Linked DNA regions of Homo sapiens: region 2 is linked to region 1. A link means that fine-mapping ties the variant in region 1 to the expression of a gene that starts in the linked region. Tissue or cell type: whole blood. Region 1 holds a variant in brackets; the other region holds the start of a gene. All regions are shown on one strand. Distances are from middle to middle.

What was found. PIP is the estimated chance that this variant, and not a neighbour inherited with it, causes the effect.
Region 2: SEMA4D starts here. The variant in region 1 is fine-mapped to the expression of SEMA4D in whole blood (TOPMed, PIP above 0.99).

Annotation. Positions count from the first base shown.
Region 1 is chr9:89,380,462-89,385,855 of GRCh38, reverse strand. SEMA4D (semaphorin 4D) reads left to right here. Exons shown (of 16, transcript NM_001371194.2): 14 at 4,510-4,682; 15 at 4,758-4,801. Among named protein-coding and RNA genes, the nearest start is that of SECISBP2, 65 kb to the right of the region's middle. The variant C/A (reference allele first, on the strand shown) is at 2,833.
Region 2 is chr9:89,495,830-89,501,223 of GRCh38, reverse strand. SEMA4D (semaphorin 4D) reads left to right here and starts at 3,111. Exons shown (of 16, transcript NM_001371194.2): 1 at 3,111-3,305. RefSeq lists silencers at 3,022-3,211, 3,642-3,791.

The DNA.
Region 1 (5,394 bases):
GCCTTTAGGGGGCTGCCTCCCTGGCCCTGGCTCCTAACGGGACCTCCAACCACCTTGTGGGATCCAGGCCCAGTCAGTCCTCTCCTCCCTCAGCTGGGAGCAACAGGCAGAGGAAGAGGGCCCCTGTCTGGCCGGGTAAGATACCTACCCTTGGCAGGTGCGTATTTGCAAACACCCCTCCAGGTCTTCTGTCCTCTTCCCTCCCCTGTATCCACAAAGCTTGGGAGCCTGGGTCCTTTTACGTGGTCACCTCCCCTCTGCTAATGGAGAGTTCTCCCTCAGATCTGAAAGGAAAAGAGAATGAAATAGCCTGAGCAAGTTATAAGCCACTGGGTACTGGCATCTGTTCACCAGCCTCTCGGTCTCCAGGACACAAAGGGAGCCCTGGAGATTTGAAGGGTCGACGCTTTAGCCACTGTGGGGCCTCACCCCAGCCTCGTTGTTGAAAGAAGGGGACCCAGAAGCTCTTCTGGGGCCATCGTGCTGTTCAGTGGCCTCAGCCAGACTGGGCAGGCACCTACAACATCTCTAAAATGTGGACTTCTCATTAGAATGAAGATTGGGCCCCTGGTGTGGACATTCGTGAGAATGACACTCTGTTCCAAGGGTCACTTAGGGACCCAGGCTGGTGGAGGCTTCCAGGGCACATGGGCACTGATCCTCAAAGGCAGAAGGGGGTAGGAAGAGGAGGGCCGCACAGAGGGGGTTACGGGTCAGTGCCCACCCGCCATCTCCCAGAACTCGGTCACATGGCCACACCAGGGCAGCTGGCCACACAGGGAGCCTCGCGCCCAGGAGGAGGAGCCAGTGGGTTTGGGGAAGCGCTTGCTGGTCCTACTGGACCACCCGACCCGCCTGTCTCTGTAGGAGCCTCCATTCGTGGGGACGTGGCTTAGTTGCCTGGACAAGCGGAAATACATCCTGCCTGCCGTGGGGTCCTGTGCCTTCTCCTTGGGCCTCAGTAGGCTCCAGGTGGGGGTGGAAGGCCCAGCTCCATGGCCATGGCAGCAGGAAGTGGCTGTTCAGTGGTAAAAAGACTGTGCCGCCTGACCCCATCAGGCTCTCTCACGGTGATCAGCAAATGGAGAAACGGCCAGTACCACGCCCTCCCCCTGTCCTACAGCTGGGGAGGTGCGCTGTGCCTCCACCCTCACCTCCTCTCCCCTGATGACAAGCATGGGGTTTTGCTTTTTATTTTGGTAAATACACATCAGATGAAATTTGCCGTCTTAACCATTTTTCATTGTGCACGTCAGTGGCATTAAGAACATTCACGTTGTTTTGCAGCCATTACCACTGTCTGTCTGCAGGGTGCTTTTCATCTTCCCAAACAGAAGCTTTTTACCTGTGAAATACAAACTCTTCATTTTCCCCTCCTCCAGCCCTGGGCAGCCGCCATTCTGCTTTCTGTTTCTGTCTGGGTACCTCATATGAGTGGAATCACACAGTATTTATCCATTTGTAACTGGCTTATTTCACTTAACATAAAGTCCTCAAGGTTCCTCCCTGCTGTAGCAGGGGTCAGGGTTTTCCAAGGCTACATACTCCTCTGTCGTATGTGAATACCGCATTTTGTGAGTCCCGCATTTTGTGTGTGCGTTCATCCCTTGATGGACACGGTTGCTCCCACCTTCTGGCTTCTGTGAACAGTGCTGCTGTGAACGTGGGTGTGCAGATACCTCAAGTCCTTGCTTTCCATTCCTTGGGCGCACACAGCAGATGCGGTTTGCTCGGCCCTCTCTGAGCCCACCGAGTAGGCTGTGTCTGTATTTTCACCAGGACTCCTTGGGATGCTGAGCTACAGCTAGCGTGGCAGAGGGCAAGGAAGGCACTTAGACAGCTCAGTTGCCTCTGATCACGTCCACCGTCACTCCAACCTGCCCTCGGGGTCTGACGCGCACACACAGCAGCAGAGACAGAGATGGGAGCATGAGAGCTGCCTGCAAGGGGACAATCCTCAGGCCCAGGGAAGGCGGAGACAGGGGGCGTCGAGGGGCAGGAGTGCACAGGACAGGCTTGCTCTCAGCGGGCCTCACTCATGCTGCCAGGTGCCTGGTCAGGCTTTTTTTCTTTGCCTTTAAAAATTTTGTCTTGAAATAATTTTAAATTTACAGAAGAGTTTTGATGATTGCACAGAAGGATCTTGAGCGCCCCCACCTAGCTCCACATGTCCGATGTCTCACATAGCCAGTGTGCATTTATCTGAGCCAAGGTGCTGTCATGGTGCAGTGCGTTACCTGAACCCCAGACCCTGGACCCTCCTACCTCCCGCCCACCACATTCCTGGCTCAGCACCTCAGGTTGCACTGGACACTGCATCTCCTCGGCTTCTGCTCTGTTCCTGCCTCCCTGACCTCAGCACTCCTGGAGAGGAGTAGTCTGGTGTTTTGTGGTGTGTCTGGTGTATTCTTGTGATTATCTTGGGGTCGTGGTTTTAGGGGGAGCACCAAAGAGGGCGCTTTCTGGGGATGGGGCATCTGTATGACTCGCACCAGCGTGATGACCTTGGTCATTCTGTCCAAGTCACCACCGTCTTTTTCCATGTCGAGTGTGTCGGGGCATGTAGTCCACACTGGGGGTGGGGGAGAGTGAGCCCCACCTCCCAGGGGAGTCATGTGGGAAACCCCCACAGTCATTCATGCTTATTTGCAGGGACAGACTTGGAGGCTACAGAAATGCCCTGTTCTCCCACCCACTGACATCCACATCGACCAGTGGGTCCTGCCTGCAGCAGTTACAGCTGGCTGTCCTGACGACCAGTTCCTCCTTCCCTGTCCCCTCTTCCCTTCCACAGTCATCCCTTGGTCTCTGTGTGGCGTCGTTTAGTTTTTA[C/A]AGCTTAGTTTCATTTGGGCTGCAGCCCAGCCCCATCCGGGAGAAGCGGAAGCTGGGGCTGAGTCTCCCGCAGGGTGCAGGAGGTGGTCTGGATCCCCTTGGGACAGGCCTTGCCCCCCAGAGCCCACCCCACCCTCCACAGCTACCCTCAAGCCTCTCTTTGGGGTGAGGAGTCAGGCGGGCCCCACTTGGCCACCCAGGGCACCCTGCTCTGCACTGCATGGTGTTCACGCCACCTCGCAGGTGCCCCCCGCGGGACCCAACAGGACCAGCTGTCCCTTGGAAGTTACCCAGCTTGGCTTTGCTGCCAGAGAATGTTTCCGCCACCTCCACAAGCCGCGCGATGCCCGAACTGTGATCTGGGATGTCATCCTCAATCCTTCCCACAAACGTGGCTCACACATGGCCTCATCTGCCCAGGTCTCTGCTGCTGCTGCTGCTGTGAGGCCAGCGGCGGGCCAGGTTCCCTCTGCTGTGTATTATCACAGTTTCCATCCTTGGGGGCTTTCCCTTTCTCTCGTGGGTCTGTGTCCGCACAGCTGGATGTGTGGCCTGGGGCTTCCTGTATTGGCATCAGGGCCTGTGATCTTCCAACCACACTCTGAAGTTGACTCCGAGCGTATCCTCTGAGGATGAAGGTCGTGTTTCATCTGACTGTAAACCACTAAGTCATGTGTAAATTTGGGAATCTTGTATTGTTAACCAAAAGGTGTCCCCAGGCTGTTGAGGCAGATGCCCTGGGCAGAGGCTAGAGAGCGCGCTCCACGGGCCACCTCCAGGTCTGTTGCACGCCCCCGAGCTTCAGGTGGGTGCACTGCATGTGGGGCACCCTCCTTCCAGCTGAGTTCCGTTCAAAAGCAGTCAGCAGCCCTGGATGCCTGTGTGCTGGGCACTGCTGGTGCCAGGTGGGCTGATGGGATGGACCTGAAGCTGGTGTCACTGGGAACCAAGTGTCCCAGAAGGTGGGAGAGTCTCACCTGCCCTCTGCTGTGGGTGTGGCTGCTCTGGAGCTCGGAGGTTGACTTCCCGTCTGTGAGCTCTTCCCTTTTACATATAGATAAGTGAAAAGCAAAAGGCATTGTTCCTTTTTTATGTTTTGTATCACGATCTCCTCATCCTTTGCATGTCGTCCGTTTGGCATCCCTGTTATGTTAGGCCTCTGCTGGATCCAGACCCTCACGAGAGGCTCCCCGCCCACAGGTGCTCACATTCTGGCTCGGGGGACGAGGTTGGGCTTCGAGGTGGTGTGCTTCAGCCTCTGGCTGCAGCCCCTTCTCACCTATAGTGAGGCCGGGAAGATGACCGGGAGTGCCAGGCTCATGCATCCTCTGCTGCAGGGAGGAGATCTGGAGGTGGGGACTGAACAGCCTCCCCACTGGCTAAGAGAAACACGTGCAGAGAAGCGCTTTGCTGGAGGGCAGGCACCTGTGGGTGCCCAGACAGGGGAGAGAGGGATTTGGACCTAAGGCCCAGTGAGCCCTGACATAGCACGTGGATTCTGCAGGAAGGTCACAGACCTGCCTTGTTTGCCTCTGGTTCTGAGTACCTCTCCTCCTTACTGCAATGTCCCCTGAAGGTACACTCTGGCTGCTTCCCACACACTGGTGCAGAAGCAGAGGCCATGCTCCTGGATGCCTGCTTGCCTGATGCTAGTTCTTCTCTGTCTCATACACGCAGGGCAACAGGTTTGTCTATGCTGGCTCTAACTCGGGCGTGGTCCAGGCCCCGCTGGCCTTCTGTGGGAAGCACGGCACCTGCGAGGACTGTGTGCTGGCGCGGGACCCCTACTGCGCCTGGAGCCCGCCCACAGCGACCTGCGTGGCTCTGCACCAGACCGAGAGCCCCAGCAGGTATGGGGCGGGATGCGCTGCCTGGGGATGTCCCCCATGTGTGTGGGTGAATAACACGTGCCGGTTGTTTTGCAGGGGTTTGATTCAGGAGATGAGCGGCGATGCTTCTGTGTGCCCGGGTGAGTGACTCCTCGACGTCCCATTTCCTTTGGGAGTGGCGAGGTCTTGTAGCCATTTCACGGTGCTTCAGTTCTGTGGCATTTGTGTGTGTTTTGTTTTTCTTTCTCCACTCGGAACAGAGGTCAAGTGTTCTGTAGCAGACTCGTGGTCTTCTCTGTCTTTTTTTCTTGCCGAAAGAGTACTTGAAGCCACTTAGAGTGTATCTGCTTACTGGGAAGCAGTCTCCTTCCAAAACCATCCTGTTTTCTTTCTGCTTAGCTTGGGGCTCATTAAGCAAAACCTAAGCCTGTTATAAATGGGGAGAAAGGAGCCCATGAGTGATTAATCCTCAGGCAGTGTAAGGGCTGGGGTGGTGTTTCCCCTGGGGCTCCCACCTGGGATTCACCCGCCTGTGGATGTCTGAAATAGCACCACACCCAGAGGGAGGGGTGGCATCAGGCCAGATGCCCCTTCCCCAGCAGCCACCTTCCAGGGTGCTAAAGGCAGACTTGACCCTCAGTTCTGTGTCTTCCTGACCCTGACAAGACAGCTGTCATCAGACTAAGAAAGGTTTAGGCAGCTGGGCATGGTGGTACACGCCTGTAGTCCCAGC
Region 2 (5,394 bases), 120 kb before region 1:
AGCATGGTCTCAGTATCCAAACACTTGGCATTTCTGGGGAAACTAGGAAATAGATTGGTTAATATGATCTTTGATATGCTTGAACTTAATATTGGAGGGGAAAGTAAGGGGGTGAGAGGTAAGGCAAGATTGGAGTTCATTTAGCTACTTTTATTTTTATTTTTTGAGACTGAGTTTTGCTCTGTCGCCCAAGCTGGAGTGCAGTGGTATATGATCTTGGCTCACTGCAACCTCCGCCTCCCGGGTTCAAGTGATTCTCCTGCCTCAGCCTCCTGAGTAGCTGGGATTACAGGTTTGTGCCACCATGCCCACCTAATTTTTGTATTTTTAGTAGAGACGGGGTTTCACCATGTTGGCAAGGCTGGTCTCGAACTCCTGACCTCAGGTGATCCGCCTGCCTCAGCCTCCCAAAGTGTTGGGATTACAGGCGTGAGCCACTGCACCCAGCCTGCTACTTTTATATCTATGTTTGAAATGTCCCACGACAGAGTGTGAAACAAGAATAAAAAGGCAAGCTTGGTCACTTTGGGAGACATAGGCAATCATGCTGAGAGAAGGGAACAGGGAAGAAGGTCAGAGAGGAGGGAAGAGGAAGACCTAATAATGGCATCCAAGTCCCGGTTCTAATGGTACTTGGGGCATCTTTGGATGCAAGTGAGCCAATAGTATGGGCTGAAGTTCTATCACTTACAACTAAGAGTCCTGTCTCCTTCATGAATGCAATAAACATGTTTGGGGGCAATTTTATATAAGCACGGTGCAAAGAAGCCCTTGTGTTCGCAGCCTGGGCATTGCGGAAAGCTTTTTGGAGTTTTTACTGAATTCTCTCATGTTCTTCTGTATGCATTAGGAAACAGGCTAGAGAGGACAGTATTCTGGAAGGTCATGATGCCAGAAGTGTGGGCCCCAGGACAGCCATGCAAAGTCTCTTCTTTGCCCTGGGCTGCCCTCTATTAGATTCTGAGCATGTGGGTCTAAAAGCCAGGAGAGAATTCAGCAGTTGTTGAGAAGCATACCCCTCTGCTGCTGGTCCCCTCCCTGCAGTGTGTTCCCAAGGTGGCCCCAGGCCTGTCTAGACGCTGGCTGTGAAGGGCACGCTCCTGTAGGGGCAGCCGGCTCTTCCACAGTGAGGTCTGTCAGAAAGCGCCCACGATAGGCAGGAATCCACTTTCTCATCTAATTTCCACCCATCTGTCCTCATTCTGCCCTTCATAACACCACAGAGTAATCCTTCTTCCCGGGACAGTTTTGCACATATTGGGGTTCTTCTGTCTTGTGCTCCACACATTGATTTTCTAGGCTGAAGACTCCCGGTGGGTCAACTCCCCTCCCACGGGATACTGCTGGCTGCCTTAGACACCAAGCAAGGGCATGGTATTCTAGATGTGTCTGACTAGTGAGGAATAAAAGAGAGTCCCCCCACCCCACCCCAATCAGTGCAATGCTTGCATGTGTAGATCCTAAGCGTGCATCCCTCCTTGGGTATAGAATGCTGTTAAACCAGTTCTGTCCTAATCCGTTCCCATTATGTTTCAATCCAAATGGGATGTGGAACATGGATTCATGGACCCCTACAATTGGAAAAGAGCTTGGAAAAGACTTCTCTAGTTTTTCCTGTAATAGTCACCAGCACTGAACCCGAGCACACGGTGCAGTGGGCTTTACCTGCCATTCTCTCTCCGTGCTCCCCAAACCCTCCAGGACGACCACACTGTCCTCATGTTGCAGGGTACAGAGGTTTGCTGAGGCCTGAGGTTATTTGGAAACTGCAGAGCTGTGAGTCAAGGGAGTCTATCAGATTCCAGGTCTGGATTCTTCAGCAAGAGGGTGGTGGCTGCCATGCCGTAGAGGGAGGAGGGGGTGCGTGCTCCACCCCACCCTGCTTGACACCAGCTTTGCCATCTTAGCCTTTGCTGGGCCGAAGCCCTATTCTCAGAGCTCCGGCACTGAACCACAGAAACCACAGGAGGCCCTAGAACGGAACTCTGAGACTGTTGGGCCTTTAACTCTGTGACTGTTGGGCCTGGGACTGGCTTCATTTGTAAACTCTGGCTCTCAGAGCCAGTGCTCAGCAGGAAAACAGCCTCAGGGCCCCTGCCCCTCAACAGCAGTCTGTAGTCCAGGGAGGTATCACCTGGCCTGGAGAGGGGCTCCCCAACTCCTCACATTTAGGGGAAATCTTAGCTGGTTCCGTAAGAAACTGTGTCCCCTTCTCAGGACTGTGTTCCTCAATAGGCCTCCCAGCCTGGCCAGTCACTGTGCGAGCCCTGTCACCTCTCCTGGGGGCAGAGGGAAGAGGTCTGGATGGAGCAGCACCATCTCTGAGGGCCCCCAGATCCCCAAACCCATGGGCTAGTCACAAACAAGTCTCACCAGCAGCCTCACAGGAGGACCATTTGCCATACAGAGTGGAAAATGATGAACGTTTGGCAAAAGGCTAGCACGGGGGTTCAGGGAAACCAAGACTCCAGGTGGTGCCAGCCCCTCCCCTGGGGAATGGGAGCAGCCTGGTGTGAAATATTCTTGCCCAAAGTCAGCAGCCAAGTGTTCTGGGTGCCACGTGCCTCACGCACACTGCAGGTCAGGTTCTCAGAAGAGCTGGCCCAGGGTCTGGGGGTGAAAAAAAACTGGGGGATTTGGGGGAGGCCTGGAAAGGGTGGGGTTCATCCAGGACCCCAGAAGGGGCAAGCTTGTCTATTGAGAGCTGGTGAGGAAGAGGGTGACAGGGCACCTCTTGGTCCTGGGAACGGGTGCTTGACTCAGCAGAGACCAACCCAGGGCTGAGGGACAACCCTCTGGGCCTGGCGGGGAGGCAAGAGAGATGGGAGGTGAGGAGGAAGGAGTGGGGAGCAAAAGTGGGGAGAAGGGGAGAGAGGTGGAAGAGTGTTGCGAAGGTGAAGAAAGAGGAGGAAAAAGAGAAGGGAGGAAAAGAAAGGTTGGGGGAGGGAAAGGAGGGAGGTGAGCAGGGGCGAGGAGGAGGGAGGAGGAAGGAGGAAGAAAGGGGCGGGGCCATAGGAGGGAAGAGAAGAAGGGGGAGAGGAAGGGGAAGGGAAAGGGGAGGAGGCGGGAAGGGAGGGGGAGCGGAGGAGGGGCCTGCGCGCCCGCCCCGCGCACTCCGTCCCCGCGCCGGCCTCAGCGCTCTCGCGCGCCGCAGCATCCCAGCCGCCGCTGCCGCCGCCGGGCCTCCCCGCCACCCCCTCCCCGGCCCGGCCGCCTCCCGCCGCTGCCGCCGCCGCCGCCGCCGCCATTCCTGGCGCCCGAACTCGCCCGGCCGGGAGCCGCCGCGGGCAGGACGCGCGCTGCAGGTAAGCGGCCGGGCTGGCGCGGGAGGGAGGGCGCGCGGGGCCGGGCAGGTGCGCTGGGGGCGGCCTGGACCCTCCGCGGAGCCCCCACTCCACACCCCTAGGCTCCTCACCGGACCCTCGGGGCCCTCCCCGAACCCCTGCAGGAGCCTCCTTCTGGGATCCCCGGACCCCTGGACTCCTTCCTGGATCCCCCCGGGGCCCCTCCTGGGACGCCTCCCAGAGACACCTACCCGGACCCCTCCGACCCCCTGGACCTCTCTGCTATCCCTCCCCGGCCTTCTCCCCTTCCCGGTTGCCTCCCCAGTCCCTGCGCGCAGGTGGCTCCTCTGGGCGCGGGGGAGCGGGGGCGCGCTGCATACCCGGGCCAGGGAGGGGGCGGTGCGCTCGGCCAGGCCCCGTCGCGCCCCGGCCCGCCCAGTCCGGCCCCGCCAGGTCAGGCCCCACTCCGGCCAGCCGGGCTCTGGCCGGGCCCCCGCGGGCTTCTATTTTGGTCGCGGAGGCCGCGGACCCTGTGCACTGGACCCGGCGCCGCGCACTCAGACAGGTGGGGCAGGTTGGGCCGCAGTGGTCAGGTCGCCGCCTTGGCAGTGAGTGCTGCAGGCCTCGGTTTCCTTTCGGGTTTTGGTTGCATTATTCTAGAACAGCCCAGGAGAACCACAAGCCTTAGCTTGGGCTGCACCTGTTGCAGCCGCCTAGTGAGCTGCAAGGGGCTGGCTCTACTGGGGTTATGCCAGTAAAAACGTGTAAAGGAGAGTTGAACTCGTGGTTGTCCTCTATTTTCTGGCTTAGTATTTTGGGGGGTAGGTGGGAGAGTGGGTGAATGGGAGTCTGTAAGTGGGCAGTTTGCGTCAAATGAGGCCTGGTGTCGAGGGCTGGGTCCTGCTTTCCGGAAGGTTTTCCACATGAAGTTGCTTTGCTTTTGTTTTGAAAACCTCACTCTGTGTTGAGCACATCCCAGGCTCGTGGGTGGCCAGGCCCCCGAAGGCCAAGCTGGACGTGGGGCCTGGGGCCAAGCATCTCACCCTGCTGTTCTGAGTCTTTTCAAATCCACCAGGCGCCACGGAACGGAAGTTTCCTTTCCTGGGGGTGACGTGACACCAGTGGCCTGTCACCTCATATGTGTCCTAGGCCTGGGGCCTGCCTGCTGGCTGCCCAGGCGAGGTTATTTGGGAATGTTTACTGTGTCCCAGAAACAGGCAGCTCTGGCCAGTGCAGGGGCAGGATTCTGGTAGAGATGATAATGCCCTGATTGTCATTTTGACAGTTGGTGTCTGCGTATATCATGTCTTGGTAGTCGTCAGCCAGAAGAAGAAAGCAGGCGGGCTCAGCATACCCACCAGGGAGGCTGGGGTGGGAAGATGAGGGATGCACTGGCCTGTTTCTGTGAGCAAAGACTGCCCTCCCATAAGGCCAGACCTTCAGACTGAGAAGAGTGTACGTGGTACACTCAGCGAGTCAAACAAAGAAATAGAAACACATCACTGGTGCCAGGAGCAGCCCTGGGGTCCCAGGAGGGTGGGCCGCTTAGGAGTTGGTAGACGGTGGAACTCAGTGGCTGTATTTCAGAGTGCAGACAGGCAAAAGGCCACCGTGGGGATGCAGAGCCCCAGCTGCCATGCCAGCCCAAGGTCTTGCAGCACAGCACAAGGGAGGGACTCCATGGGAGGGGGCCCACCTCCTGAGAAGCACACCCAGAGTCTGTTGAAAATGCAGCCTTGCACAGACCCCCCTGAGTGCCTGGGGTCCTGGGCTGAGGTTTAGAGTGCAAGACCAGCGACCATGTTGCATTTGATATCCAGTGGGTCTGGGGCCAGGGAGATGTCCTTGGTGACATCATCCACTTGTGGACAGTCCTCTCCATGTGGACCGCTGGAGGCAGATGTTACCTAGAGCCGCTTTCCCCACACCAAGCGGGTGTGTCTAGGCCAAAGCTTGGGAGTGCACGCTAATGGCCAGCTTTGACTGAGGAGGGAGGGAACGTCCGCTGCTGACAGCACAACAGCAAAATCAATAATGCATTGCAAAGATCAATGGTTTTCTCTATCTTCTGTGCTTCTGCATTGAGGCTGTTCAGGCTTCTGCCTCTCTT